Linked DNA regions of Homo sapiens. The protein of the gene in region 1 interacts with the protein of each later gene in a biochemical or structural test. Each region holds a gene or a part of one and is shown in the gene's direction. Other genes may lie near its edges. The genes, in order: MPDZ, OR3A1, CCDC88C and HTR2B.

What was found.
Region 2: the proteins of MPDZ (region 1) and OR3A1 interact in a test that uses a peptide from one of them, tested with the Homo sapiens proteins (one study listed by IntAct).
Region 3: the proteins of MPDZ (region 1) and CCDC88C form a complex in vitro, tested with the Homo sapiens proteins (one study listed by BioGRID).
Region 4: the proteins of MPDZ (region 1) and HTR2B form a complex in vitro, tested with the Homo sapiens proteins (one study listed by IntAct).

What each region holds. Positions count from the first base shown.
Region 1 is NC_000009.12:13,108,686-13,115,711, reverse strand, and holds part of MPDZ (multiple PDZ domain protein), read left to right. Parts: intron 1-377; coding exon 378-464; intron 465-1,690; coding exon 1,691-1,781; intron 1,782-2,657; coding exon 2,658-2,701; intron 2,702-3,565; coding exon 3,566-3,688; intron 3,689-4,971; coding exon 4,972-5,076; intron 5,077-5,647; coding exon 5,648-5,760; intron 5,761-6,652; coding exon 6,653-6,776; intron 6,777-7,026. UniProt on the Homo sapiens protein: Member of the NMDAR signaling complex that may play a role in control of AMPAR potentiation and synaptic plasticity in excitatory synapses. Promotes clustering of HT2RC at the cell surface.
Region 2 is NC_000017.11:3,295,335-3,302,829, reverse strand, and holds the start of OR3A1 (olfactory receptor 3A1), read left to right. Parts: upstream 1-4,469; 5' UTR 4,470-4,547; intron 4,548-7,495. UniProt on the Homo sapiens protein: Odorant receptor.
Region 3 is NC_000014.9:91,414,795-91,421,898, reverse strand, and holds the start of CCDC88C (protein Daple), read left to right. Parts: upstream 1-4,078; 5' UTR 4,079-4,208; coding exon 4,209-4,268; intron 4,269-4,296; exon of another isoform or gene 4,297-4,520; intron 4,521-5,060; coding exon 5,061-5,161; intron 5,162-7,104. UniProt on the Homo sapiens protein: Required for activation of guanine nucleotide-binding proteins (G-proteins) during non-canonical Wnt signaling. Binds to ligand-activated Wnt receptor FZD7, displacing DVL1 from the FZD7 receptor and leading to inhibition of canonical Wnt signaling.
Region 4 is NC_000002.12:231,108,043-231,115,068, reverse strand, and holds the end of HTR2B (5-hydroxytryptamine receptor 2B), read left to right. Parts: intron 1-1,139; coding exon 1,140-1,340; intron 1,341-5,659; coding exon 5,660-6,552; 3' UTR 6,553-6,839; downstream 6,840-7,026. UniProt on the Homo sapiens protein: G-protein coupled receptor for 5-hydroxytryptamine (serotonin). Also functions as a receptor for various ergot alkaloid derivatives and psychoactive substances.

The sequences.
Region 1 (7,026 bases):
GGCCTCCCAAAGTGGTGGGATTACAGTCGCTTTGTTTTTTAAACCCTCAGTTATTCAGCTTGTTTGTCCTATCAAAATTAGTGTGTTTCATGAGATAATTGCTCAATTCTCCATTTCTTTTTGGTACAAGTAGTCTCCATAGAAATCATGAGGTGATAAGGTAAACACTTGGTGTTGCTGCTGCTGATTATTTTTATTAGTTTGAATGTTTTATAAAAAGCCATTTTCCACAAGGGATTGGAGGTATCCTTGCTTATAGAAATTCCAAAAGGAAGATGCCTTTCAAAAAAGTCTTGAAGAGTAAAATGTATTCCTAAAGATGATTATAGCATTTTATTTAAACATTTCCATAAAACACCCCCCATGCCCACCCCCAGTGTTCCCTAGGCACAGTAACCTTGGAAGTTGGAAGAATCAAAGCTGGTCCATTCCATTCAGAGAGGAGGCCATCTCAAAGCAGCCAGGTGGGTAGCTGTGGAGTTCATCAGGGCGATGCAATCGGCATGCCAAGAGGACACATAGATGGCCCTGACTGTGGGTCTGTGTACAAGGTCTGGTCCCCTGGCAGCGTGGGATAGTGACTGAGGTGCAGAGTTTGAGACAGAGAAGAACAAGGAATCAGAATAGCCAGGTAAACAAGGTGTGGCTGTTGAGTAGTTTGTAAGTCATTCTAAGGAAATTGATTTCAAGCATTCTTTTTTGACATGATTCATTTTCCATAATCTCAAAAGGTAACTACCTAATTGTAAAGCCTACCAAGATAACAAATTTTTTATTATTTTATTTATTTTATTTATTTATTTATTTATTTTGAGACAGAGTCTCGCTCTGTCACCCAGGCTGGAGTGCAGTGGCACAATCTCAGCTCACTGCAACCTTCGCCTCCCGGGCGAAGTAGATTCTTCTGTCTCTACTTCCCGAGTAGCTGGGACTACAGGCGTGCACCACCATGCCTGGCTAATTTTTGTATTTTTATTAGAGATGGGGTTTCGCCATGTCAGCCAGGCTGGTCTCAAACGCCTGACCTCGTGATCCACCCGCCTCAGCCTCCCAAAGTGTTGGGATTACAGGCATGAGCCACCGTACCTGGCCCCAAGATAACATATTTTAAAAATATTTTATAGCAACATCAATCAATATTCAACTGAAAAGTCCCATATAAGTGAACTATAGATACTCAGCACCATGTATAAAAATATGATGTTAAATATTTCAAGACTCTTGACAAGACCTCTTGACCTTCTCCTCAGTGTTGTCTACTGATGATGGAAACCCATTTTCATCAGTCTGTCCTTAAAGACCCCATACTAACTTTCTAAATTACTACCATGAGTTTCCTATTAGCTGGCCCTAATTCTACAGTTTTTGTTTAAGTCCTAGTCTTCCTACAACATCAGTTTAAATTTAAAGAAGATTAGTTTGAATGAGATTATGACTATCCACTAAAATTTTAGGTAGATTGGAATCAATTTCATCTACCCTTTTAGCTTCAATTTATTTATGTCACTAGACACATTCTCTGTTTAAAAGAAAAAAAATCAGTAGGAACTGTGTTTAAATTGCTCATCAAATTATCAAATGCCACTGTTGCTTAACAGGTATCTGTCTCTAGATTAAATTCTGAAATAAGTGGTATTTAGGGAGTATGTTACTTGCAAAACCTTCTGAAATAATTGTTGTATATTTGTAGGTGAGTGAAGGCAGCCTGTCATCTTTCACTTTTCCACTCTCTGGATCCAGTACATCTGAGTCACTGGAAAGTAGCTCAAAGAAGAATGCATGTAAGATTGGTTCAGTATTTTAAACATGGTTTGAATTTGGCTGTCAACACTGATTTTTTTGTCTTGTTTACCTCTGAGCTTTCTTTTCCCCCAAATCATCCCATATCCAAATATAGGTACAAAAACACGTGTTAGCAAAAAGTCTGAACAACATGAAGTTCTGCCTATGGCAGCTTTTCCCATTTGATGTTTACCCTACAAGATACACTAAACATTATAATCAGGATTCTGTAATTTTTTTTTCTTACTAAGCAGATTGGTGTTTTTGATTTTATTCCTTTTCTGTGTTTAATGTAACACCAGTAAATCAGAAGATGCCATTAAGTGAAGCCTTCTTTTTCCATGAAGATTGCAAAAATTTGAGAAAATTAATGTGATCCTCCTGTGTTTTAATTACGTGAAATCATGCTGCAGAGGGATTTTTGGCTTGGTGCATTGGTTGAGAGTTGTTCAAATTGAAGAAACTAACAATATGGCAATCTCTGTTTGCAGTATGACTAATATTCTAGAAATTTAGGCACTTAAATTTGTGAATTTTTTTAATGCATCCATGACTTTATTCCTCTCAGCCGTGCACATGTGCCTTTCTATGCAAAACACATTCTGCCCTTGACTCATTCAAAGTGGATTACATAGTTATATAATCAACACTTAAAATGAGAAGGAAGAATGGGATGGTATACACGTTTTTCCAACTGGAAAAATAAATAGTTCTGTGTAAGACAGATCTAATCATGTGTACTAGCAGCTTTGAGCACCCCCTTAAAAAAAGAAACCTAGGTTATCATTTAGTCCCATCCAGCTTTAGATATTTTAACGAACATAAAAAGTGAATGAACATAAAATAACCCTATTTTATCTTTTTTGCCTTTACAGTGGCATCTGAAATACAGGGATTAAGAACAGTCGAAATGAAAAAGGTAACTTGGGGAGAGAAAACAATATAAACCCTGGCGTTTTAAGAGACATCTTCATATGTGTTTTCTTGTTAACTTTCTTACGGTTTTAAAGTATTCATCTCAAAAAGTATGTATTCTTACATATTACATGTGAAATAACATAATGTAGTCCTTAATGAATTTCCTGATCACAGCACCTCATTTGAAAAATCGTTGTTTGCATGCTCTGTTTTGCTGAAAATAGCATAAAATTGACCCCACACAAAATAATACCATGCCTCTCACTTCTTATAAGTAAACCTTTCTCTTCAACAGATACTTATTAGTTCTGAAACAGATTCCCTTGACAGCCATGCACAAGAGACAAAGTAAAAGCAGCTGTGATTTATTGAGCTTTTACTATTGTTCTGAGCACTCTTATAGACACTTCATGTCATCATCATGTCATTTAATATTCACTGCAGCCCTCTGTGAGAGGCACTGTTGTCTCCATTTTGTAAATGAAGATCTAATGATTTATTGAGTGGAGTGGACTTATTCCAAGTTCCAGCATTTGCAAGTATGACTTCGTGGCTTTGAACACAGGACTCTGATTCCAAAAGTGTGGTCTTTTCACTTCATGAGTTTACCTGCTTTTCATCAGTTCCACAACATGATTTTCATTTAGCATGTCTTGATTTATTTTACTTCCTGAACAGATGCTTATTTTCCTAAGCCACGCTAAGCACCTGTGTCAAGTAAAGTAATGCAGTTTTCTTGCACTTCTTCATTTTCCCCCTCACACTTAGAAAATCAGAGTTGACTATAGATATCATGCCAAAGAATAAACAAAAGGTCAATGAAAAATATCACTTTGACCAAAATTTTATATCTGTTCCATGGCAGGGCCCTACTGACTCACTGGGAATCAGCATCGCTGGAGGAGTAGGCAGCCCACTTGGTGATGTGCCTATATTTATTGCAATGATGCACCCAACTGGAGTTGCAGCACAGACCCAAAAACTCAGAGTGAGTCGTACTATCAACCCTAGAAGCCCTAGCAAAATGTGCAGAAGTGTTTTTATAAACCTTTGAACCTGGCTACCTGTTGCAAGGCAGTTTTAAATATCTATATTTACTTTTAAATCATCTAATCCAACCACAGCAAGGCTTGCTTGGAATAAAAGATAAAGAATATTAAAAGAAAGGAGAAAATGCAGATTTGCAGTTAAATAGGAAGATTTATAGTTGTTTCCTAATACATATTTTTATATGTTGAAATTCTGTGGAACAAGCTAAAAGAGAACAGAAAGTATTTTCAGAACACCAGTATGAAGTGAAATTTTTATCTTATATATTTGATTGGTTTAAACGCCGATTTAACTCTGTTAAATTGAAAAGTATTACTTATTTGCATTCACTGATAATTTTGCAGAAGTTTAATATAAATATGACTTACAATGTTATAAAACTATATGCAACTTGCCTCAAAGCTGAGGGATTATCCAAATTGTGGAGCATTGCAATGGAATTTATGCCAACTGCCCAGCTCTAAAAATTACATGAATATTCCATTAACGCAACTCAGTCTCTCTAAAGCAAAATCTCTATGGTTTCATACCTCAAATAGGTCTCAGAACATAACCACATTTTAGTTTAAATAGTCTTTAGGCTGGGAATGGTTCAGCCTCGTTTGATATCCAAATTTATGGCTGACACTTAAAACCTGATTGTATACATAGCACAGGGTCAGTAAACTTCTGGAAGGACAGATACTGAATATTTTAGGCTTTGTGGGACCTGTGAGTCTCTGTTGCAACTACTCAACTCTGCGCTGTGAAAGCAGCCAAATAAGCATGGCTGTCTTCCAACCAGACTTTATTAACCAAAACAGGCAGTGGGCCAAATTTGGCCTCTGGGCCTTAGTTTGCCAACCTCCGACTTAGAGTCACATCTAATGATTATAATAGTAATGTCCAGAGAAATTTCAGTTTCCAAATGATAGTGAATTTTTTTTTCTTTTAATAGGAAGTAATGTCTCACCCAAGAGAAATGAAGAGCAGGGAAGAGTGACTTTCTCCTTCTCCCTCCCTCTCCCCTGGATATGGAACTCAACCATTATGCACTGCTTCTTTTTGTGGTTGCTGCTTTTTGGACTTCTTGGAATTAGTGGTTTCCTTGGTTATATTTCAGTGGCTGGTAGCAGTATATATGTCATGTGGAAGGTGGAGAAGGAAATGAATACTTAGGTCTCAAAGACCCACTCTCCATGGCTGCTTTAGCAGATGGCTGTTTCTTTCTCTCCCTTGCAGGTTGGGGATAGGATTGTCACCATCTGTGGCACATCCACTGAGGGCATGACTCACACCCAAGCAGTTAACCTACTGAAAAATGCATCTGGCTCCATTGAAATGCAGGTAAGATTTTTATCCCAAGCATAATTCAGAATATAGGTAGCCTGAAGACACATGAGCTTTGATGTTAAAGCAGTAAAAATGATTAAATCTTCTGCTATTATTTTATTTAATATTTCTCTTGAACATAAATGATTAAATTAAGAGTTCCAATAAAGTGCATATGAGACATATTTTGTAACATTTTACTCTGATGCATTGATTGTTTTATACTTTAAGGGGAAAAAAATCCAGGCCTTAGCAGTACATGATTATTTGCTGGAATTTTAAGTGGTGCTAGCAAGTGGCTTATATTCTAAAGATCTTTAAAAAGTAATTACATATGAGACCACATTTTAAAAACATCAAAGAACTTTGTAGAATAGAATTAGAAGAATATGTTTACTGTCAGGACAGTTAAGAGCCTCTGGACCTTGTGAAATTTCATTCTCTTTGGTTGTATTTTATGTTAACAGAAATGTTTAAATGAACAATAAAATATACATTTTAATCCAAGTGCTCTTTCTGAAGAAAAATTACTTTCCCTAGCCACAGGAACATGTGTTTTTTCTGTTTATCCTCCTCCTGTGCGCAGGTGGTTGCTGGAGGAGACGTGAGTGTGGTCACAGGTCATCAGCAGGAGCCTGCAAGTTCCAGTCTTTCTTTCACTGGGCTGACGTCAAGCAGTATATTTCAGGATGATTTAGGGTGAGTTCATACATGATGATTAGTGTATCATTTTTCACTTATGAATCAAGTCTTCCTGACAGTTGCGTTCTCTGTCCCATGTTTCTAGGAATTACGTACAGGTAAAATGATAGGATATATGAAGTGTGAATTATACATATCAGGTGCTTCTAAACTTAAATAATTGTGGCATGGATTTAGCTGATCAAAGATAAGTAGAGATAGATAACTAGCTAGATAGATATGCGTGCTACTACCCTTCCCATGGTTTCAGCTCTGATTTTGGGGCGGAGGACATTTTAGTCTTGATGTTACCACTTCATGTAATATGGAGCAAGTCAAATCTATCATTTTAAAATTTCCCGCACTGCCTATTCATCTAATATATTATCATTTGGACTGAAAAAATTCACAGTATTAAGTAACAATACTTGGATACAAAAGCATTGGAAAACAGAGGAGAAGAGAGAGGCGCATTAGAAATTTTAAATAATTTGATGCAGCTTTTCCATTGCTTATAATTGATTTTTCTCTCTGAGCTTGGGCGTACTGATGTTTATGACTTATTCTAATATAGTCCCCTGAACTTTAGCCCTCTCACTTTAAATAAACTGGAAAAAGAATGAGCTTCTCTGTACAATGAGAACATGCCATGAATATGTTAGTTTAAGGGAACTGTAAATGAGTAATAGAATTAGGGTGTTAAGTAGGATTTCATTAGATTATGTAAATTTAAAATACCAAGCACAGCATGCACTGACAATTTAAGCATCTCAAAAATACCCGTAATATACTCCTTGTCAGTAACAAAGAGAATTATGCTAGCTCTAGGTGGATGTCAGATAATTCATAACATATATGTATAGTTTTTTTTTTTTAATTTAAAACCTCTTTTTCCTTTCCTTCACCGTAGACCTCCTCAATGTAAGTCTATTACACTAGAGCGAGGACCAGATGGCTTAGGCTTCAGTATAGTTGGAGGATATGGCAGCCCTCATGGAGACTTACCCATTTATGTTAAAACAGTGTTTGCAAAGGTAAGCTTGCAAATTTTAACCACCCTCTTTTCCCCTAAACATTCATTAATAGTGGTCAGCAGCTGGCTTATTAGTTTATGGCCTGAGGTAATGCCAAATGGTTAACAGTTGATCATTTCTTTTCAAAACTCCCTACAGGAACAGGTCATTAAATATTTTTGTCCAATTTGAGGTTTCATTATATTTAAAGGAAAATAGGCTCAAATTGAAACTCCATGGAAACTCAACAATATACATAAAAATATTAATG
Region 2 (7,495 bases), on another chromosome or scaffold:
ATATGGAGCCCTAGGCTCACACAGTGCATGACAGATACCAGGCACTTTGACGAGACCAACAGCAAAGCATCTGCAGATGAAATGTGGCCACTAGCCCTTTCCCAGTCGGTCAACATCCTGCAGGTGGAGGCATGTAGGATTGTACATGTGCAAGAATTTCTTTTGGGTCTCTAATTAGGAACGGAATTAGTGCAACTATATTTAAAGAATAAAGCCCAAATTGTGTTTTCATGTGATAGTACAATTTTATGATCTCACCAGCAGTGTATAAAAATTTTTGTTGCTCCAGTTTCAGCTTTCTACATATGGCTAGCCAGTTTTCCCAGCACCATTTATTAAATAGGGAATGTTTTTGTCAGGTTTGTCAAAGATCAGATGGTTGTAGATGTGTGGTATTATTTCTGAGGGCTGTGTTCTGTTCCATTGGTCTATATATCTGTTTTGGTACCAGTACCATGCTGTTTTGGTTACTGTAGCCTTGTAGTATAGTTGGAAGTCAGGTAGTGTGATGCCTCCAGCTTTGTTCTTTTGGCTTAGGAATGTCTTGGCAATGTGCGCTCTTTTTTGGTTCCATATGAACTTTAAAGTAGTTTTTTCCAATTCTGTGAAGAAAGTCATTGGTAGCTTGATGGGGATGGCATTGAATCTATAAATTACCTTGGGCAGTATGGCCATTTTCACGCTATTGATTCTTCCTATCCATGAGCATGGAATGTTCTTCCATTTGTTTGTATCCTCTTTTATTTCGTTGAGCAGTGGTTTGTAGTTCTTCTTGAAGAGGTCCTTCACGTCCCTTGTAAGTTGGATTCCTAGGTATTTTATTCTCTTTGAAGCAGTTGTGAATGGGAGTTCACTCATGATTTGGCTCTCTGCTTGTCTGTTACTGGTGTTATTTGGCTCTCTGCTTGTCTGTTATAGGAATGCTTGTGATTTTTGCACATTGATCCCTTCGTTACACCTTATACAAAAATTAATTCAAGATGGATTAAAGACTTAAATGTTAGACCTAAAACCATAAAAACCCTAGAAGAAAACCTAGACAATACCATTCAGGACATAGGCATGCACAAGGACTTCATGTCTAAAACACCAAAAGCCATGGCAACAAAAGCCAAAATTGACAAATGGGACCTAATTAAACAAGAGCTTCTGCACAGCAAAAGAAACTACCATCAGAGTGAACAGGCAACCTACAGAATGGGAGAAAATTTTTGCAATCTACTCATCTGACAAAGGGCTAATATCCAGAATCTACAAAGAACTTAAAGAAATTTACAAGAAAAAGTCAAACAACCCCATCAAAAAGTGGGTGAAGTATATGAACAGACACTTCTCAAAAGAAGACATTTATGCAGCCAACAGACACATGAAAAAATGCTCATCATCACTGGCCATCAGAGAAATGCAAATCAAAACCACAATGAGATACCATCTCACACCAGTTAGAATGGCAATCATTAAAAAGTCAGGAAACAACAGGTGCTGGAGAGGATGTGAAGAAATAGGAACACTTTTACACTGTTGGTGGGACTGTAAACTAGTTCAACCATTGTGGAAGACAGTGTGGCGATTCCTCACGGAACTAGAACCAGAAATACCATTTGACCCAGCAATCCCATTACTGGGTATATACCCAAAGGATTATAAATCATGCTGCTATAAAGACACATGCACACGTATGTTTATTGTGGCACCATTCACAATAGCAAAGACTTGGAACCAACCCAAATGTCCATCAGTGATAGACTGGATTAAGAAAATGTGGCACATATACACCATGAAATACTATGCAGCCATAAAAAAGGATGAGTTCATGTCCTTTGTAAGGACAGGGATGAAGCTGGAAACCAGCATTCTCAGCAAACTATCACAAGGACAGAAAACCAAACACCGCATGTTCTCACTCATAGGTGGGAATTGAACAATGAGAACACTTGGACACAGGAAGGGGAACATCACACACCAGGGCCTGTCGTGGGATGGGGGGAGGGGGGAGGGACAGCATTAGGAGATATACCTAATGTAAATGACGAGTTAATGGGTGCAGCACACCAACACAGCACATGTATACATATGTAACAAACCTGCACATTGTGCACATGTACCCTAGAACTTAAAGTATAATTTAAAAAAAAAAGAAAAAAATTTTTGTTGCTCAATATTTTCATCAAAACTTGATATTATGTCGTTTCTTCATTTAGGCCAATAGTACATGTAAAATAGTGTCTCTATTGTGATTTTATTTAATTAATTAATTAATTTATTTATTTTGAGACCGATTCTCACTCTGTTGCCCAGGTTGGAGTGCAGTGGTGTGATCTCAGCTCACTGCAACCTCTGCCTCCCAGGTTCAAGTGATTCTCCTGCCTCAGCCTCCCGAGTAGCTGGGATTACAGGCATGTGCCACCATGCCCAGCTAATTTTTGTATTTTTAGTAGCAATGGGGTTTTGTCATGTTGGCCAGGCTGGTCTCGAACTCCTGACCTCAGGTGATCCCCCCACCTTGGCCTCCCAAAGTGTGAGGATTACAGGCGTAAGCCACTGCTCCCAGCCTCCATTGTGATTTTAATTTACATTTGCTAGAAGAAGCTGAAAAGGCTGGCACAAAAGTCAGAGTCTTGAGGGCAGAGACAGTCATAGTGATCAGATGATGTCATAAAAGTTGTTTTTTGAAGCAGATTAAAAAAAAAAAAGAGGGAAGGGAAAGTCTTATAGAAAAGTTGTTAAAATCATGCTTTGTGGCTTGAGGTCCAGCTCTGCTACATCCTAGATAGGTAACATTAAGTAAGTTACTAAACTTCCCCGAGCCTCAAATTCCTCCTCTGCAAAGTGGAGCAAATAACAAAGCCATGTCAAAGAGTTGTCCAGAAAATTAAGATAATGCACCAAAATAAAGCAAATATTAATGATTGCCATTTTATTAGTATTAATATTTGTTGATCCCCTACCAAGTGCTTTAACTATTATTTTATTTAATTCTTAGACCAACCCTCTGTGGTTGGAAATATTATTCTGTTTTTACACATGAAGAAATGGAAGGCCAGAGTTGCTGAGCAGCTGGTCCTAAGGCACGCCGTCAGTCACTGGAAAAGCAAGTGTGAGTGTACACCACGTCAGTGTTTTTCTTACCAGGCTCTTCTGGGGAAGTGTGAAGGGCTGGAGGTTTTGCAGCAAAGGAAATGCAAGGTCTCCATCATGGTGGGCACTTCCTGTTTGAACAGGGAGTAGGACATTGAGGGAGGGCTCGGCAACCTCTCCACATTCGCCGTTCATTAACCTCATCACCAAGAGTCTCAACTTCTAAGGTCCTGGCCTAGAGAATTACAGTGGGAAGAGACGTCCCTCAGGACCCCTTGGTCCCTCCTAACTGAACTCAGCTCTTCTACCACCAATTCCAAAGTCATGATGGGGTCCCCAAGATGCAATTCCAGTGCCCCCCAGTGCCCCCGATTAACAAGGTCCTGAGGGAGAAAGCACTGCATTCCTGAGGACTCATTAGAAAGCCAAGGTTGGAGAAAGCTTCTCCCTTTTGTCTCCATTCTTGTGCCTCCTTCTCACCTCCAGGGCAAGCCTGAGAGTCAGCTCTCTCTGCTCAGAACTCTTGTTCCGAGAGGAATCTGGGAGAACAACGCTCTGTCTGGATACTTACTCTAGCCTCAGCACCACCATTAGATCCACTGTGGCTTTGTGAAGATGAATAAATTCTCTGGACTTCATTGGTGTGGTATGATAAATGGGATTATTAATACTCCCTAATTACCCCCATGAAACTAATATGAGGGGTGCAGTAAGGAGTTGGAGGGGAGGCCTCTTTGAGAAAATCAAAAGCATCACAAAGTCATAAGGCATCATTATTGGGTTCATTAAAAGCTTGGGTTGTTTATTGCTCTGTGGCTCCCTAAACCTCCGAACCTTCCTGGAAGGGCTAATTCTGAGATCCCCAGAGGCTGACACGGCAGTGGATAGATGACTGGATGATCTCATTTCTGGCTCACTCGTTTTCTCGTATATGGCCCTTCTTTGCTCTCCGGAGCACAGGCCTGCACAGTGCTTCACCCGCTTCCTTTCCCTTCAATAGAAACCTTGCTGGCCTCTGTATCCACAACGAGGTGAGGACTCTCCGGGGGCCCCCTTCTGCTCCCTAATAATAGAGGTGGCATTTGAGTTGTTACCAAGTGGTCAAATCTCTTATTTCATGGAGGACTTACTAGAGAAAGAGAGTCTTGTTCGAGATAACATATCAAGTGAGAGAAAGATCTGGGACTCTCCCATGCCAGGGCACGTTGCCAATGCCCGTCCTTCCTAGATGAGGCCTGCTTTCTCTTTTTACTGAAGTGAGTAGGAGGGCACTCAGAGAATCCAACCTTCCTGCCTGGACCCATTTCTCGGGGAGCAACGCTGAACCAGGTTCCTACAACAGAGGGTTGTATTGAGTCACGATCATCAGATGCATAAAGGACTTAGTTGGAATGTTGGAGCAGGGATCCAGGATCACTCAATAAGGGCAGCCTGAGCCTCAAGCTGGATGCCTGAGAGTGGTAATCCAGGTGAGTCTCTACAGGTGAGGTCATCACTGTGATCCTGTGTAAGACAGGCTTCTTGGAAACATAGACCAGTGTTCATCCTAGACTCTTGTTGGGTTATATGGCATCTCTGTGGGGTGTACTCTTCTAGCCTATTCTTATTTATTCATAGGGTCTACCATTCCTAATTGCCAAATTCTTTTGAGATGTTCTATCAAAAAGACATCTCCGTGAATGGATTGTTTTAACTAATGTCTTAACTATTCCCAAATGAGTCCTCAGAACCACCCCATCTATCTTGACTCTAGAAGAAACTAATAAAAAAGAAGAACAACAAAGAAACCCCACGCCATCTAGATAAAGGGAGAAGAGACACCTACAGCAGTACTTCTGTGCCTTTTCCTCACACTTGCACCTCCCTTAAATCGTATCAATCTTTTATCGTGTTGCACAAACTCCAGCTCATCCAGAAAGCCTTTCCCAACTCCTACAGCCCAATCTGATGCTCCCTTTTACTGAAATATTGTTGCTCTTACGGTCATACTTTCAAAGTTCATTTATTTATTTATTTCAGAAATATTGAACCCTACTGTATGCAAAGTGTGACACAAGGCATTAAGAATGCAAAGCTGAATTTGGCAGAAATCTGTTGGCAAGCCACAATGGAGTAGAGGAGGTGTGCTCTATAGAGAAATGTCCGTGTGAGAGGTTAACAGAGCTAAGAGCCGTAAAGTATACAATTAAAGTGCCGCAGAGTTTAGTGGACAGGAATATGAGATGGGGCAGGACCAGGAAAACCTTTACAGAGGAAGCACATTTTAATTGAGCCAAAGGATTTGAGAACTTAGAATTAGTTAGAGGATGTTCCAGATAAAGTAAATGGTTAGAACAAAGATGGGAAGATACAGAATCAAAGGGTGTAAAACCTTACAACCTGAGTTAAAGTGGATGGGAAAGGGCAAATGAGAGGTAGTTTAATTAATTACTTAATATGTAAGGGAATTGTTCTGCTCCTATAGATATGTCAATTCACAGAGTATTTATAGTGAATGATTTTTAAGTCGATGATTAGACTCAGAGGGTGATACAACAGGAATTGTTGATTTAAGAATTTTTAGGAGACACCCTATGCAACATCTCCCAAATCCGACAGCCACCACCTTATGGGGACCTAATTTGGGATTCTAGCTTTGAGGCTTCCACCAGCTCTGCCTGGTGTCCATAACTGCTGCTCTGCCTTAATTGCAGATATAAAATGAACCTGTGTAGAAAAGGGAATCTCTGCAGGGCCCAGAGGGGGCAGCTACTGGCTGAGGGAGCAGAGAGTGAAAGAAAAGAACCAGATGTTATGCCCCTTCCATAAACGTAATTTGAAAAGCTTTCCTTCTTCAATATCCCAGTACAGTCAAGTAACATTGGAAAAAATGATTCCTTGAAAGTTTAACACAATTTTTCCATTTTTTGGTGGGGATGGCGGAATGTTGGTGGTAGTGTAATGGAATGGAGTCCCTTTTTGAACAACTTTCTCTGTATCTTTTTCCCATAGTAATTAGCTTGTTTCAATTTTTTCAACTTTTCTCGAGCAAGTTTTCACATGATTTTTAATCATATTTTACCAATTATGTCCAATTTTTCAAAAAATATAGATTGGGGTAAAGTGACTTTGTAAGTACTTTTTAATCTTTTAATGTAATTGTGATTATTTTCCTTTATAAATTGTTGTTTTATACAGTTGTATTTTCTTTTTATTGATTGAATTAATAAAAAATTTAACAAGTTTATGTACCCCTTTTCCTACCCATAAAAGATTTCTTGAACTTGTTTATTAGCTCTGTATTTCTTTCTACTCAAGTTTTGCTTTTATTATGACTTTTCTTATGGTTCCTTTTCTAATGTCTTGATTGGATCATTTAATTCTTTCGTTGTTGTGGATATACTCATTTAAGGCTACGAATTCTTTTCTGAACACTGATTTAATCCATTTTTTAAAATGTGCTGCTGTCATTATCTCCTTTTTCTTCTCCTGCAGATATTCTTTAGTTTTAGTTTTCATTCTCTGTTTGGTCCAACCGTTTCTTAAGGATTTCTTTAAATATTGGATTTTATTTTTAAAATCATGTTTCTTTCCATTGGGCTGTGATCATATATCATTGTTTGTATTATTTGTTCTTTTGAAGTTTGCTGAATTTCTGGTTTTATATATGCTGTTTCTGGGCAGTAAATGTTTCATGGGCACTTTAAGGAAGGTGTACAATGTCAATTGGTTCTACCTCTTGAAAAATATTGAGGTTTTTATCGCCTTTATTCTGCCAACTTAAATTTATATGGACTGAAAGTCACTAAAATCCACTGTTACCCTGTTTCTGACTATTTCTCTTTGAACATCCTGTGCTTTTTGCTTTACGTATCAATGCTATATACTTAGGACATTCGTTTTCATACCTATTACATCTTCTTGCACCCCTTATAAAATGCTCTTCTTTTCCTCATTTACTGACTTTTTTGAATTCAAACACATTTTATATTAAGATTATGATCCCTGCTTTATTTTCGTTTACATCTGACTGGTATTCCTTTACCTTTCACCCTTTCTAATTAACTTGGTTTTGGCTGTATATTTTGGCATCAGCCTAGAGTTGTATTTTTTAGATCCAACCTGAAATTCTTTTCTTTTACTAGATGAGCTTGGCCCACTCGGCTTTATCATTGTAAGTGTGTTTGGTACTAATTTTGTTCTGTTATGTTATACTGTTTGCTTTTATTGTTTTGAAATAGCCTTTCACTGTAAGGGCTACATTTGTCTTTGTTTTGTATGCATCCTTCCTCTTATATTTTAGAAGATTTTTTTCTAGGGTTACTTTTATAACTGTAACTTTGTGTAGAGTTCCAATACTCTGTTTTTAGTCAGTGTCTACTAATTCCCTGGTATAAGCACAATGAAATTAGTATATTCCTGTTTCTTTTCCCTTTTC
Region 3 (7,104 bases), on another chromosome or scaffold:
ATCATAGAATATAGTATTTTGTGGCCAGCCATAGTGGCTCACACCTGTAATCTCAGCACTTTGTGAGGCCGAGGCGGGCAGATCACCTGAGGTCAGGAGTTTGAGAACCGCCTGGCCAACATGGCGAAACCTTGTCTCTACTAAAAATACAAAAATTAGCTCGGCATGGTAGTGAGCTGAGATAGCTTGACCCCTGGGAGACAGAGGTTGCAGTGAGCCAAGATTGCGCCACTGCACTCCAGCCTGGGTGACAGAGCAAGACTCAGTCTCGAAAAAAAAAAAAAATAGCCATTCCCTCTCCCCACCCCAAGTTGTAGTAACAATTTAAGCTCCTGCTCCTATCAGGTGAAGTAGAAATGCCATTAGCTAACACTGCTGAGTCAGTATTTTCTGAGAGGGTAGAAAATTCCTTTATCAGAAGAACACAAAATACTGCTTCTACCCAGGAAGCAATGTATTAAGCAATAGATACATTTATATCCAGAGATTAACAAGGAAAAACTTAAAAATAAAGAGTTAAGGCTCAGATGGATGGAGTGAAAGCCAAGGGTGTTCTGGAAGGATGGAGGAGGGGCATTGGGACTCTCTGTGTAGTGGTCAGTGGAGGGTCTGTGCATTTGCTCCTTGAAGCTTATGCCCCAGCCCGACGGAGACTTCGGGGAAACAATTTTTATTAAAGCAAGGGTAGCAGAATGGGGCAGGAGATGAGGAAGAGACAGTGATTATGTATCTCTATAAAGCTTTATGGCTTCCACAATCTTTTTACATGCATCACCTTGAGCTTTAATATTGTCTTGTCAAGTCACATGGGGAAAATGGTCTTATCTTGATTTTGCAGATTAAGTGACTTCTAGGAGGAAACTTGTCCAGGCCAAACTTGTCCCGTCCTTTGAAGCCTTCCAAGCTTGCTACACCTGGGGCACCATCCAGTTTGCCTGCCCCATTGCCTCCTAGGGAACAAGGGAGCTGAGTTAGATCCTTTTAATCCTGGTGGCGTAGTCAAGCCAAGGCATGGTAGCAGATACATCAATGATTATGAACCAACACAGCAGCTAACTGACCCCAAAGCAAACATTCCTGACATGGCTGTGGCCCAGGGCCTTGTCAATGTCCCCAGGGGAAAATTCCCTCACCAGGATGGGAAAAGTCTCACAACTGTCAGAAGGCATTTGTCCACTGTATTTCTTAGTGTGAAAGAATAAGCTTACTCAATAAATTTTTTTTTTTGAGACAGAGTCTTGCTCTGTCACCCAGGCTGGAGTGCAATGGTGCAATAGCAGCTCACTGCAACCTTCCCCTCCCGGGTTCGAGTGATTCTCAGCCTCCAGAGTAGCTGGGATCACAGGTGTGCACCACCACACCCAGCTAATTTTTCTATTTTTTTTGGCCAGGCTGGTCTTGAACTCTTGGGCTGAAGTGATCCACCTACTTAGGCCTCCCAAAGTGCTGGGATTACAGGTGTGAGGCACTGCACCCGGCCTCAATAAATAACTTTAAAGATTCCTCATCCTTGTCTTTCCAAAAAAATTGGAAAAACAACTTTGGCCGCATCTGCATCCCTTACTTTTCAGAAGAGAGGCTTCCGAGCGAAGAGCGGTGTGTGTACACATCATACCTATTTTTGAACTAACTTACATTATGAGCAATTAAGGAACTTTTTTAAATAAAAGATTTTTAGCCGGGCGCGGTGGCTCACGCCTGTAATCCCAGCACTTTGGGAGGCCGAGGCAGGCGGATCACGAGGTCAGGAGATAGAGACCATCCTGGCTAACACGGTGAAACCCCGTCTCTAGTAAAAAATACAAAAAATTAGCCGGGCGTGGTGGTGGGCGCCTGCAGTCCCAACTACTCTGGAGGCTGAGGCAGGAGAATGGCGCGAACCCGGGAGGCGGAGTTGCAGTGAGCAGAGAGCACGCCACTGCACTCCAGCCTGGGCAACAGAGTGAGACTCTGTTGTCTCAAAAAAAAAAAAAAAAAAAAAAAAGAGAAAAGAAAAAAAGATTTTTATTTCAGATAAAATTAATATTTCCATAATTAGGATACACACATAATTAGCAAACACACATTCTTGAGTCCATTATTTAAGGTTTATTCTATAAACGACTTCCATGAGTATTAGAGATCCTGAATGTCATCTGAATATTTGTCTACACACTTGTGGGCAGCTTCTGTAGACTTTTCTTTGTAGAAATTCCAGTTTTTCTGAATTCTTCCTTTTCCTTCAGGTTTTCCACTTTGCATTATTCATAAAAGGCTGGGTCATTATAGTGAGCTGTTAAGACATTCTTTCAATGCAGAATTTTCTTTCCAGCATTTTACTACCATAAGGATTCCAGAGTTCTTGCAACATTTGGTAAAATCTTGAACTTGTCAGAAGACCTCTCTCTGGCCTTTTCTCTCATTATTTTAGGGATCAAAACATCTTTTTCGACACGTCTGAGCTGCTGCTCCAAAAACCTGTAGTGTCTTCCCATTGTTTTTGGTATAAAAATCAAACTCCTTGAAATGGTTTACAGGACATTTCATGATTCACAACTGAAACTCCTCCACAGCGATGGCACACACTCCTCTTTGATCTCAATTCTTCTTTCTTGTGGTCTTTGCTTAAACCACTGTTCTTTAAATTTCACAGAGCAACCATCAGAGTTGTTAAATTAATCCGCGGGGTCGAGTGCCATCGCGGCGGGCGGAGAAGCAATTAAGGAACTTCTCTAATGAACTTCTGGTGCACAACAAAACCATGTAGTCTCGAAATTTTAGTTCCTCCGCAGTCCCCCATTGTGTTTTATGCTACCCCGCCTTCCACAGTCTCTAGGGACCCCTAACCGACCCCCTTGGCTCTCAGGCCATAATCTCACAACCCTCCCCAGCCCAACGGGGTCCGCCAGCGCTGGGCTGTAATACCACTCGCCACCAGCAGATGCCGCAGCCCCAACGCTGCACAGAGCCAACTTTCAAAATTACCACCGAGCCTGTCGGCAGCCATTTAGTGCCTGCTGTATACTTGCCAAGCGCCACGCAGGGCCCTTCGGGTCAACCCTGTACCAGTTGGCCCAGCTGCGAAATGCGGCGATCGTTAGGGTTAAATTAGTAAAATGGTCTACAGTGCTTTGAACAATGACCGGCTGGTGGTGTGAAATTATTACCAGGCCGAGACCAGCCTGGAGCCGGCTCCTGCCTCGTGCCGTCCCGCAAGGAGGTCCTGCCCCCGGGCTTGCCTTCCAGCCAGTTGGGGCCTTTGCCCTTTTTCCTGTCGCCTGCCACTAAGCTGCTGCTAGGAACCCCGGCTGGAATTTAGCTCGCCTCCGGCAAAGTGGTGGGGGCGGGCCCGGGTCGGGGAGGCCACATCACCTGCTTCCTGCAGGAACTTTTAGAAGGCAGGCAGCCCGGAACATGGCACGGTGGGGCACGGTAGGGCGCGAGGGGCCGCGCCCCTAAGGCCTAAACTCAACATAAAGTTTCTTCTTTGCCCTCCAGCCCAGCCCCAGGGTCGGGGCGCGTTTATCGCGCCGCGCACAAGCGTGAGGAGCGGGGGTTTGCGGGGCCTCTTGACTGTACCTGGGGCTGCACCTGCCAGGAGTGCGGAAAGGCGCAGGGCCGAGGTCCCCAAGCCCAGAGCGGGCGGCAGCTGCGGGCGACCTCGGAGGGCAGAGCAACCTCGGAGGGCAGGGCGTCCCCGCTCCCGGCACGCACCAGTGCCCGCGCACCCCAGCTCGCACGTGGCGCTCGGGCCCCGGCTGCACGCGCACGCGCGCAGGGATGCGCCACGTGCTGGGGCCCCACACGCGGGGAGGCTGCGCTCGGCGAGGGCGCGCGGTCCCACGGGCGGGGAGCCGGGCCCCGCGACCCACCCGCCTCGGGCCACCAGTCCCCTCCCAGCGCCCCGCGTAGCCTGGTCCCGCGCCCGGGCTCCCGGGCTCCCGGGCTGGCACCGCGAGGCGGCGCGCCGGTCGCCCAGGGCCGCCGAGGGGCGGGGCCGCCCGTATTGTTCCTCCCCGAGCGGCTGGCCCTCCCCTTCCCCCAGACCCGGGCGGGGCGCGGGGCCGCCGAAGCCGCGGAACGTGGGCTCGCGCGCCCCGCCTTTGTCTCCCGGGCGCGAGCCGCCGCAGCCCCGCGCCCGCTGCTCGCTGCGGAGCCGTTTTGTGCCGCGGCGCGGGGGAACGGGGACGCGGGGCGGGGGGCGCGGAGCCGGCGGGCGCAGCCTCAGCATGGACGTGACAGTCTCGGAGCTCCTGGAGCTCTTCCTGCAGAGCCCGCTGGTGACCTGGGTGAGTGCGCCTGGCTCCCCGCCCCTTTGTTGGTGCACCGGCTTCTCTCTAGCCCGGCGACGGGACGCCGCAGACCCGACACGGCCGGGGCCCCGGGTGGCTCCGGGGCGCGAGGGACGCAGCAAGTGGCTCCCGGCCGGGGTTGGGGCCGCGTCCTGGAGTCCGGAGCTTTGTAACTCTGGAGCCGGCGCCCCCGTTGTGCGTCCGGCGCGGGACCCCGCCGCGCTTTCGGCCGGGCCAGGAGCCGGGCGGGTACACCTGTTCCCGCTGGGGCTCTAGGCTGGCTGCCTCGGGGCGGACCGGGTCCCAGTGGTCACTCCTGTCCCTGGGGTTTAGCCACTCCCGAAAAGGACCCCATTCTTCCCAACCAAATATCTCATGTAGTTTTTCTGAATCCCTGAGACCAGCCGGTGGATGGCGGTGACGGGTGGGGAATGGGGGGCGCCGAATGGGAAAGCGAACAGACTGGGGTGGGCGCACTGATTTACAATGGATTTGAGACGTGAGACATTTATTGAAAAGTCCTTTTTATTTTTATTTCTTCCGCTCTGGAACGCGGGAGAAAAGTGGCGAGGAAGTTTTTCCTCCTGTCTCGTGTCTGTTGCCCCGCGCGGGGAGGGGAGACAGGCCCTAGGAGAAGGCCGGGCTTGGTGCCTGCTGAAGGGTGGTGTGGGCGTGGGTGACCCCCTTCTGCTCACACTGACCCGTCCAGTCTCTGCCTGGGAGAGCTTTGGACCGTTTGTGCGCACGGGGTGACTTCCTGTCTTTCTCTCCTCGTCCCCCTCCCCGCAGGTGAAAACTTTTGGCCCGTTTGGAAGCGGCAGCCAGGACAACCTGACTATGTACATGGATTTAGTGGACGGCATCTTTTTGAACCAAATTATGCTGCAAATGTAAGTTACCTTCTTCTCGGAGGAAGGAAAGAATGGTGCGTTAGAAAGTTTGAGAGTAGAAATGGAGTGGAAGGTTGCATGGCGGGGTGTGTGTGGGGTGGGGGGTAGTTCTCTGAAGGTGGAGACGCTGGTATCTCAGTATTAACGTGCCTGTTGGACATTCGTAGGTGTTTGAAGAACTCCAGGACAGTGGGTCTGGCAGTTGGTTTGATGAAGGAAATTTGGAATTGAATGACTGTCATTTACGTGGTGTAGATAGTGCAATTGACTTCAGACTCAAGGACTTAATTGTGGTTTGAGCAATGAAATGAAAAAGTCCCCTTTTGGAGGGCAAGGAACTGTAACGGAGAGTGTCTGGTTACAGGAAGTGTCGGGGTGGGCCCAGGCATCCGAGGGTTACTGTAAAGTTTCATTTTAGATGAGGGTGTCTGTGTTTCTGAGCTCCTTTACATTTCATCTTCCTTTTTCAGTTGCCCCAAAGCAAGTGCAATTCATTAAGTCCTACTGTATGGACTGAGTTTAAAGTCACAGTGTTAGGAGGGTCCCATGGTGCTGTTTGTTTGGAAGCATGCAGCCTGAACAGGGTCTTAGTAGAAGTTACTCTTGCCAGCGAGTACATCTGACCACATCCTTTCCTGTTGCTGAGCTCTGCACGGCCTGATTGACAGCTTGCCACAACGTAGGTGTTGGCTTCTACCTTTGCATTCTGTTTTTAACTCAAACTGCAGGGAACATTGGAACTGAGTGTCGGGATGATTCACAGGCACTTGAAGCAAAATAAAACATCCTAATGTTCTCTGTGGATCAGCCTCGTGTGCGCACCTATTCACCTACGACTGAGCAAGTTGTCATACTGGAGCATAAATCTATTAGCTAATGAGAGATCAGCTTCGTTTGTGGCTCACAAAGGCAGAGGAGCAGTTTGCTTTGGCATATCCAGAAAGTGGCTTATATAGATTGCCTTAAACAGCCTGTTTAGAAAAAAATAATTCAAGAACCTTGCTTTTTTTTTTTTTGGAGACGGAGTTTCGCTCTTGTTGCCCAGGCTGGAGTGCAATGGCGTGATCTCAGCTCACCACAACCTCCGCCTCCCGGGTTCAAGCGATTATCCTACCTCAGCCTCCCGAGTAGCTGGGATTGCAGGCATGCGCCACCACGCCCGGCTAATTTTGTATTTTTAGTAGAAATGGGGTTTCTCCATGTTAGGCTGGTCTCGAACTCCCGACCTCAGGTGATCCGCCTGCCTTGGCCTCCCAAAGTGCTGGGATTACAGGCATGAGCCACTGTGGTGCCCGGCCTCCTTTTATTTTAATAAGTCATTTGATGTCATGCTGTTTAATGGTTTTTGCTTTTTTTTTTTTAAAGTTCACAGCTGTGGGTGTAGGAAAAAAAGTCACTACCAATCTTACCAGTCTTCAGTGTCTGATTAGATTGAAAAACATAAATCTGTTGCCAGCTTTGACAGCACTTCTTAGATAACTTTGTTGAAACTGAGTTTTCCGGAAGCTGTCTCGTGGCATATTCGAGTTCTGGCCACTCTCCCCTCATTCTGTTAGACCCTGAAAATTACTGGATTCCATTGGCGCAATGACCGGTGAAACTTCAACCTGTCCTTACCCAAGCCCAAGACTGTTTAATTAAAAAAACCAGCAGTATCCCCAGCCTTTTCATTCAGCTCCTACACCCAGGCAGAGGGGGGAACAAAAGCACTGGGACTGTTTCTCTTTCTTCCCTGACCTTTGGAATTCCTGAAGCGTTTCCCACTTGCTTGTAAATCAGGAAAGCCTGTTGGACCGTTCCTTTGAGAAACGCCAGCTCATCACTTGTTCTCATTTGGCCCATGGCTAAATTCGGCCGGGGTGGTGTGGGGTGGGAGGGTTTCTCCCCTTCCCTGGGCAATTTTAGATGTTCTCTCTGTGATATGCCAAGGTAATCATTCCAGA
Region 4 (7,026 bases), on another chromosome or scaffold:
CAATCACTTTATACCTGTCAAAGTCAGATATACCTGCAATAGCCAGAAGAAAAGTAGATTACATTTTATCAGTGGACATATAACAATCAAATCCTAAAAGAGACTTAGATAATCTCACATGCATGACATCTGTTCTCTACAGGAGTTAAACTGGATTCTAATGGAAATATTCTAGGGGGAATTCTAAAATTTTAGTTGTTTTGAAACTGTAAACATGTTAAGTGGTGGGTGTAATATATAATGCATAATATATTAAATTCACATATGTATGAACATCTGTGTAAGTAAATTTATTAGAAAACTATGCAGAATATTCAATATCACATCCACACCTAAAATTTTTTTAAGGTTAATATTTCTAAAGTGCTTAAGACTATATGAAGTATGCAGTGTTTTATAAGAGTTTGTTAAATAAATTAAGTACTACGTCTAACCCTGAGATTTTCTTTTCAAATCAAAAGTCTGTACTAATTATTTTATCTCCAGTTTTTGGAGTGAATGATGAAATATAGAAGGGGAAACAATCTACTTTTCTTCCGGATAATCTGAAGCCATTCCTTTTGCAATCTTTATTTGAGAACTATTTCTGTCAAAAAAATCACTCCACTATTTCACCAAACTAGAGTATGCTATAAACAAGGATCTTGCTGCTAGTTATTGCTAGAAGTGAGCCCAAAACCCAGGTGTCACAGAGACTCCCATTCTAATACGCTTTTTGTCATACTGTTTCCTCTACATGGTAAAATGTTTTCTTTTTATACAACAGCTACTTAAAAATAAATTTTATTTAAATACCAAGGTTAAGTTCCAGTCACAATACTACATAAATTTTAAAAAGATCACAAATGGAATCGACAAAAGAGCAAAGGTCATAATAATGCTAAAAAGTTAAACTGCTGCTGACTTAGAAAAAAGGCACAATTATTATGCAAAATAGAAAATGTATTTAAAAGTTACCATCCACAGAAATATTGAATTTAATGTTGTCTCCATTATCTGAAGTTAAACATTATGTTGTTAAAGTTATAAAATTTCAGATGAGTAACAAAAAAGACAAAAGATGTATCACCTGAAAAACTGTAGACTGAAAGTTGCCATTTTATAGAATAAAATGTTTGTCTTGTTTTTGTTTCTTTCAGAGGCTATGTGGCCCCTCCCACTTGTTCTATGTCCTGCCTGGTTATTTCTTGACGTTCTCTTTTCAACCGCATCCATCATGCATCTCTGTGCCATTTCAGTGGATCGTTACATAGCCATCAAAAAGCCAATCCAGGCCAATCAATATAACTCACGGGCTACAGCATTCATCAAGATTACAGTGGTGTGGTTAATTTCAATAGGTATGTAGAGAATGCCAGAGTGTGGGTGGTATACAAAATCTTTGGTTCCACTTGGCTAGGAGAATACCAGGTCTGGTAGGCAATGAAACTCAGCATGAGAGGTCAAGCCAGCCTACTGATACATTAACATAAGCTCCTTATGTCACTGCATTTATCATACGCCTTCTAAAACATACTGTTGGTAAAAAGTGTGACAAGTAACAAAACTCATGTCCTCAGAAAGAACCATCTGCACAGTGTTTATTGAGATTTCTTTCTGCTTAGATTTCTATATGCAGAAAGGTTAAGTTTGAGAACAGTCTTCATATTTCCCAACAGATAATTATGGTCTAGCTAGCATTTGGAATCCTGTAATTACATTAAAATAACAAGAAATGCACCTTAAATCACATTTTAAAAGATTAATAAGAGAAAAAACAAAAATAACAACTCAAACATTTTGTGGGCAGGTATCAAAGAACACAAATTCATCTTGGAAGCCAACATTTCTGTACATATGTGTACAGATTAAAGGCAGTTAAGTGTCTGCTTCAGTGGGTTTTTTTGGTTTGTTTTTTCTTTTTTGGAGACAGGGTCTTGCTCTGTCACCCAGGCTAGAGTGCAATGGCACAATCATGGTTCACTGCTGCCTCGACTTCCCGGGCTCAAGCGATCCTCCCACCTCAGCCTCCCAGGTAGCTGGGACTACAGACACACCCCCCATGCCTGGCTAATTTTTGTATTTTTGGTAGAGGTGGGGTTTTGTCATGTTGCCCAGGCTGGTCTCAAACTCTTGAGCTCTGGCGATCCCCCTGCCCCAGCCTCCCAAAGTGCTGGGATTACAGGCGTGAGTCACTGCACTTAAGTGTTTTGAGTATGTTTAATTCAAAGTTTTAAGAGAGATGCAAAGAAAACATACCGATGTTCAGAAATTATGTATAAAAGAAATCCTTTTTCTTCTAAATCGTCTTACGGCCCTGTACTCATCTATAATACTCAAAGCTATACTTCTTATCATGAAGTATGCGTAAATCATTCAAAACTCTTATATGTTAGTATCAGAAAAACAAATAGATTTGCAAAAATTACAATGGTTTGACCAGCAGATTCTCTTCTTCCTTGTAAAAATATTTCAAAGAGGCAAAAAATTAAGAGACCTGGAATACTTAAATTACTCCTCCCTAATCTGAGTAGGGGCACTGGGGCAAAAACAGCAAGAAAGCAAAACAATGAGATTGACCTTCATATTCCTGAAATGATGATATAAGGGCTTGATCTCTTTGAAAAAGTTTGGAGGTAAAAGCAAGCTGTGTTACTCCTCTGGTATGGGAAGAAAACAGGGTCAAGAAAAAGTCTATTCAGAATGAAGAGATTTAAAAACAGTGAGAAAAGGCTAGATGAGGGGGCAGATGCCGACAGAGCAGAACCAGCCCCCCAAAAGCAGCTACAGAAAGGGAATGGGAGACAATGGGTGAAAATTAAAATTTGAAGTGCAGAGGAGGAAAACTATAATAAAGTCATTTATGCCAGATGACTCACATTTGGTAAGCTCACTGCAATGAGGGAGAGGGCAAGGGAGAGTGTGAGGTATGTGTATATTGGGGTGGGGTGGGAGAGTTGGACAGAGAAAGGGAAAAAAAGTTGAAGAAATGGATCCTTAAGAATAATTAAAATATTTGAAACTGTGAAATGTGATCAAGCTAATAAGGTAAGCAGCCTGCTGGTATAAATGGCATCTAGATTAAGGCTGGATACCATCAATTTATAAATTGACCACATTTTTATTGAGTGTTTATAATGTGCTAGGTACTAAGAATACACAGATGATCAAGAAAAAGAATCTTTGCATTCAAGAAAGGCGGACATATAAACAAATTACACTAACACAAAGTGATGAGTGATGCAGGAGAAAAAAGATTAAAAGGAAGACTCATGATATATAGATTTAGAAATCCACTTCTTCCTTTTGTAGGTAAGAAAAAAGAAACCTAGAGGTTTTAATCAGTTGGCTTAAGAACTCTTACAGCTTTTCAGCACCAAGGCCAAAATCAACGCTCTTTCACTTCATTGCACTTTGTCTTGTAGAACCGATCACAAATTAATAACTTTGAAAAAATGAAAATGCAGATGACAATAAGCTCAGTTCTGAAATTCTACAAAATGCTGAAGAGAGCTCACTCTCTTCTTTTGGATTTACAGTTATTCTAGGTAATACCTGGCAACAGAAAGTATAATAATATAACAGGGTAAGGGCATAAAAAGTACCAGTGAAAACTTTTACAGTTATTGACCAACAAGCTGGATAGGAAAGTAGTGTGAGTCCTGATATTAACAGAATGTAAAAACTGAGATGAATGAAGTCTCATTAATAGAATGAGTTAATAGAATGTGAAAACTGAGATGAATGAATGAACTAGAGATAAAAATAACAGGAAACAGAAGTTCTCTAGGAGTGAGGGGTAGCAGGACAAGGAAGGGAAGTATTAGAGTTCATAATCTTAGGGATTGTTCTAAGTAGACTTGTAGATGGCTTTAGTGCAAATAATAATAATTAGAGTCAAAGAGTTCAAGAAATATAAAATTAAGGTCTTAGAAGGGTCACGAATGGGATGAAGTAGAAAATGCTGGCACTGGAACAGTGGAGAGAAGACTATAGCAGGTACTGAAGCCATTGATGAAGATGAACAAATGTCATGGAGGTTAACAGAAAAGCAAGATGGAGAAGAAAGTATTAAGTAGATAAAATAAACTTCAAAAGGCAAGTGTTTTGGGGGAGAAATAAACAGTGGAATGGTGATCTGAAAGTAACAGGGTAAAGCAGGGGTCAGCAAACTTTTTCTATAAAGGGTAAGACAGCAAATATTTTGGGCTTGCAGGGCGTATATGGTTTCTGTCACAGCTCCTCCATTCTGCTGCAGTAGAACAAAAGCAGCCACAGACAATATGTTACTAACAAATGGGAGTGGCAGTATGCCAATAAAACTTTTACAAAAATAGAATGTGGGCCAATGGTCCTCAAACTGTAGTATAATGACCCCTGGTGTAGAACAAGTATACAGAATCCTCTTTCTGGTGGTGTACATGAGGAAAAGTAGAGAAAGTAATGACCTCTGTTAGAAAGGGTTTGAGGAACATATTCTTGTCAATGGCTCTTTAGCTACCATAAAAAGGGTGTGTAGATGAGGGGTGCTCTTGGATTCACAAAACAACACAAGGATTCCAGAGGTTTCTAAAGATCAATTAATTCAGACATTTAAAAAATATCTGCTGTTTCAAAGGAAAAAGATTCAGGTTAACCCCTGTATTATTTGTCTTTCTAATAAGCTACTTCACTAAGAAACATCATATTTAAATACTTCATGGTATTTAAAGATCAGAAAACTAACATGAGGTATATTTCTTTCCCAGGTCATAAAAGAACTTTTTTTTTGAGACAGAGTCTTACTTTGTCGCTGAGCGTGGAGGGCAGTGGTGTGATCTCGGCTCACTGCAACCTCGGCCTCCTGGGTTCAAGTGATTCTCCCACCTTAGCCTCCTGAGTAGCTGGGAGTACAGGCGCGTGCCACCATGCCTGGCTAATTTTCATATTTTTAGTAGAGATGGGGTTTCGCCATGTTGGCCAGGCTTGTCTCAAACTCCTGACCTCAAGTAATCCACCCCCACTTGGCCTCCCAAAGTGCTGGAATTACAGGCATGAGCGCCACTGTGCCCAGGCTTCTACAGAAGAAGAAAGATTAAGAACTCATAATCTTTCAACATCATGATTCACACACACTCAAATTTTAAGTAGCACTTTTTAATGAACTTTAGTTTTCCCTAAGAAGTTAGATGGAAAGGATTAAAAGACATTCACACATATCAAAAGGAAAAACTGTTAAATGAAACTGTAACCTCAAAGACAAAACTGAGTAAAGATATTGAATAAATGTACTCTGAAGTGCCTCTAGATCAACTACACTGGATAATAAGAAAAAAGCAGGTTCTCTTCTGAATTTCTCTTCCTTAATCTGAGATAGCTTAAAAAACAAAAATAGATTATGAGAAATGTAGAATAAATGAAGACATTCTCCACTGTATCATGGATATACTATAGCTTTAGGGGAGCTTTCATTATAAATCTGAAATTACTAACCAATCTCCGTTTAAAAACAGATTTGCTCACTTAGGTTCTGTTTGTCAAATCTTCACTGATGAATGCTTCGACAAATCCTGCATTGTGGGTCCCAGGAATTATAATGCACCAACAAGCATAAAGTTATAAGGATACAATCCAAAAGGATCTAATCGAAGAGTTACAGGTCATAAAATGACTCAATTTATCTTGTTTTCCTCTTCCTTAGGCATTGCCATTCCAGTCCCTATTAAAGGGATAGAGACTGATGTGGACAACCCAAACAATATCACTTGTGTGCTGACAAAGGAACGTTTTGGCGATTTCATGCTCTTTGGCTCACTGGCTGCCTTCTTCACACCTCTTGCAATTATGATTGTCACCTACTTTCTCACTATCCATGCTTTACAGAAGAAGGCTTACTTAGTCAAAAACAAGCCACCTCAACGCCTAACATGGTTGACTGTGTCTACAGTTTTCCAAAGGGATGAAACACCTTGCTCGTCACCGGAAAAGGTGGCAATGCTGGATGGTTCTCGAAAGGACAAGGCTCTGCCCAACTCAGGTGATGAAACACTTATGCGAAGAACATCCACAATTGGGAAAAAGTCAGTGCAGACCATTTCCAACGAACAGAGAGCCTCAAAGGTCCTAGGGATTGTGTTTTTCCTCTTTTTGCTTATGTGGTGTCCCTTCTTTATTACAAATATAACTTTAGTTTTATGTGATTCCTGTAACCAAACTACTCTCCAAATGCTCCTGGAGATATTTGTGTGGATAGGCTATGTTTCCTCAGGAGTGAATCCTTTGGTCTACACCCTCTTCAATAAGACATTTCGGGATGCATTTGGCCGATATATCACCTGCAATTACCGGGCCACAAAGTCAGTAAAAACTCTCAGAAAACGCTCCAGTAAGATCTACTTCCGGAATCCAATGGCAGAGAACTCTAAGTTTTTCAAGAAACATGGAATTCGAAATGGGATTAACCCTGCCATGTACCAGAGTCCAATGAGGCTCCGAAGTTCAACCATTCAGTCTTCATCAATCATTCTACTAGATACGCTTCTCCTCACTGAAAATGAAGGTGACAAAACTGAAGAGCAAGTTAGTTATGTATAGCAGAACTGGCAGTTGTCATCAAACATAATGATGAGTAAGATGATGAATGAGATGTAAATGTGCCAAGAATATATTATATAAAGAATTTTATGTCATATATCAAATCATCTCTTTAACCTAAGATGTAAGTATTAAGAATATCTAATTTTCCTAATTTGGACAAGATTATTCCATGAGGAAAATAATTTTATATAGCTACAAATGAAAACAATCCAGCACTCTGGTTAAATTTTAAGGTATTCGAATGAAATAAAGTCAAATCAATAAATTTCAGGCTTTAAAAAGAACCACTGTCATCATAAAATTTATTTGGTTTCTAATTATATGCAAAGTTGTGCTAAGAATGAAATAAAACAAAACAAACATTAGCCTTGCCTTCCAGGTCTTAAAAGCATAAGGCATGATACAGAACAAAAGGAACACAGAGCTAAAAATAAGTGCACAAAACAGTGATCACATCTGGAGGTGAGTTAA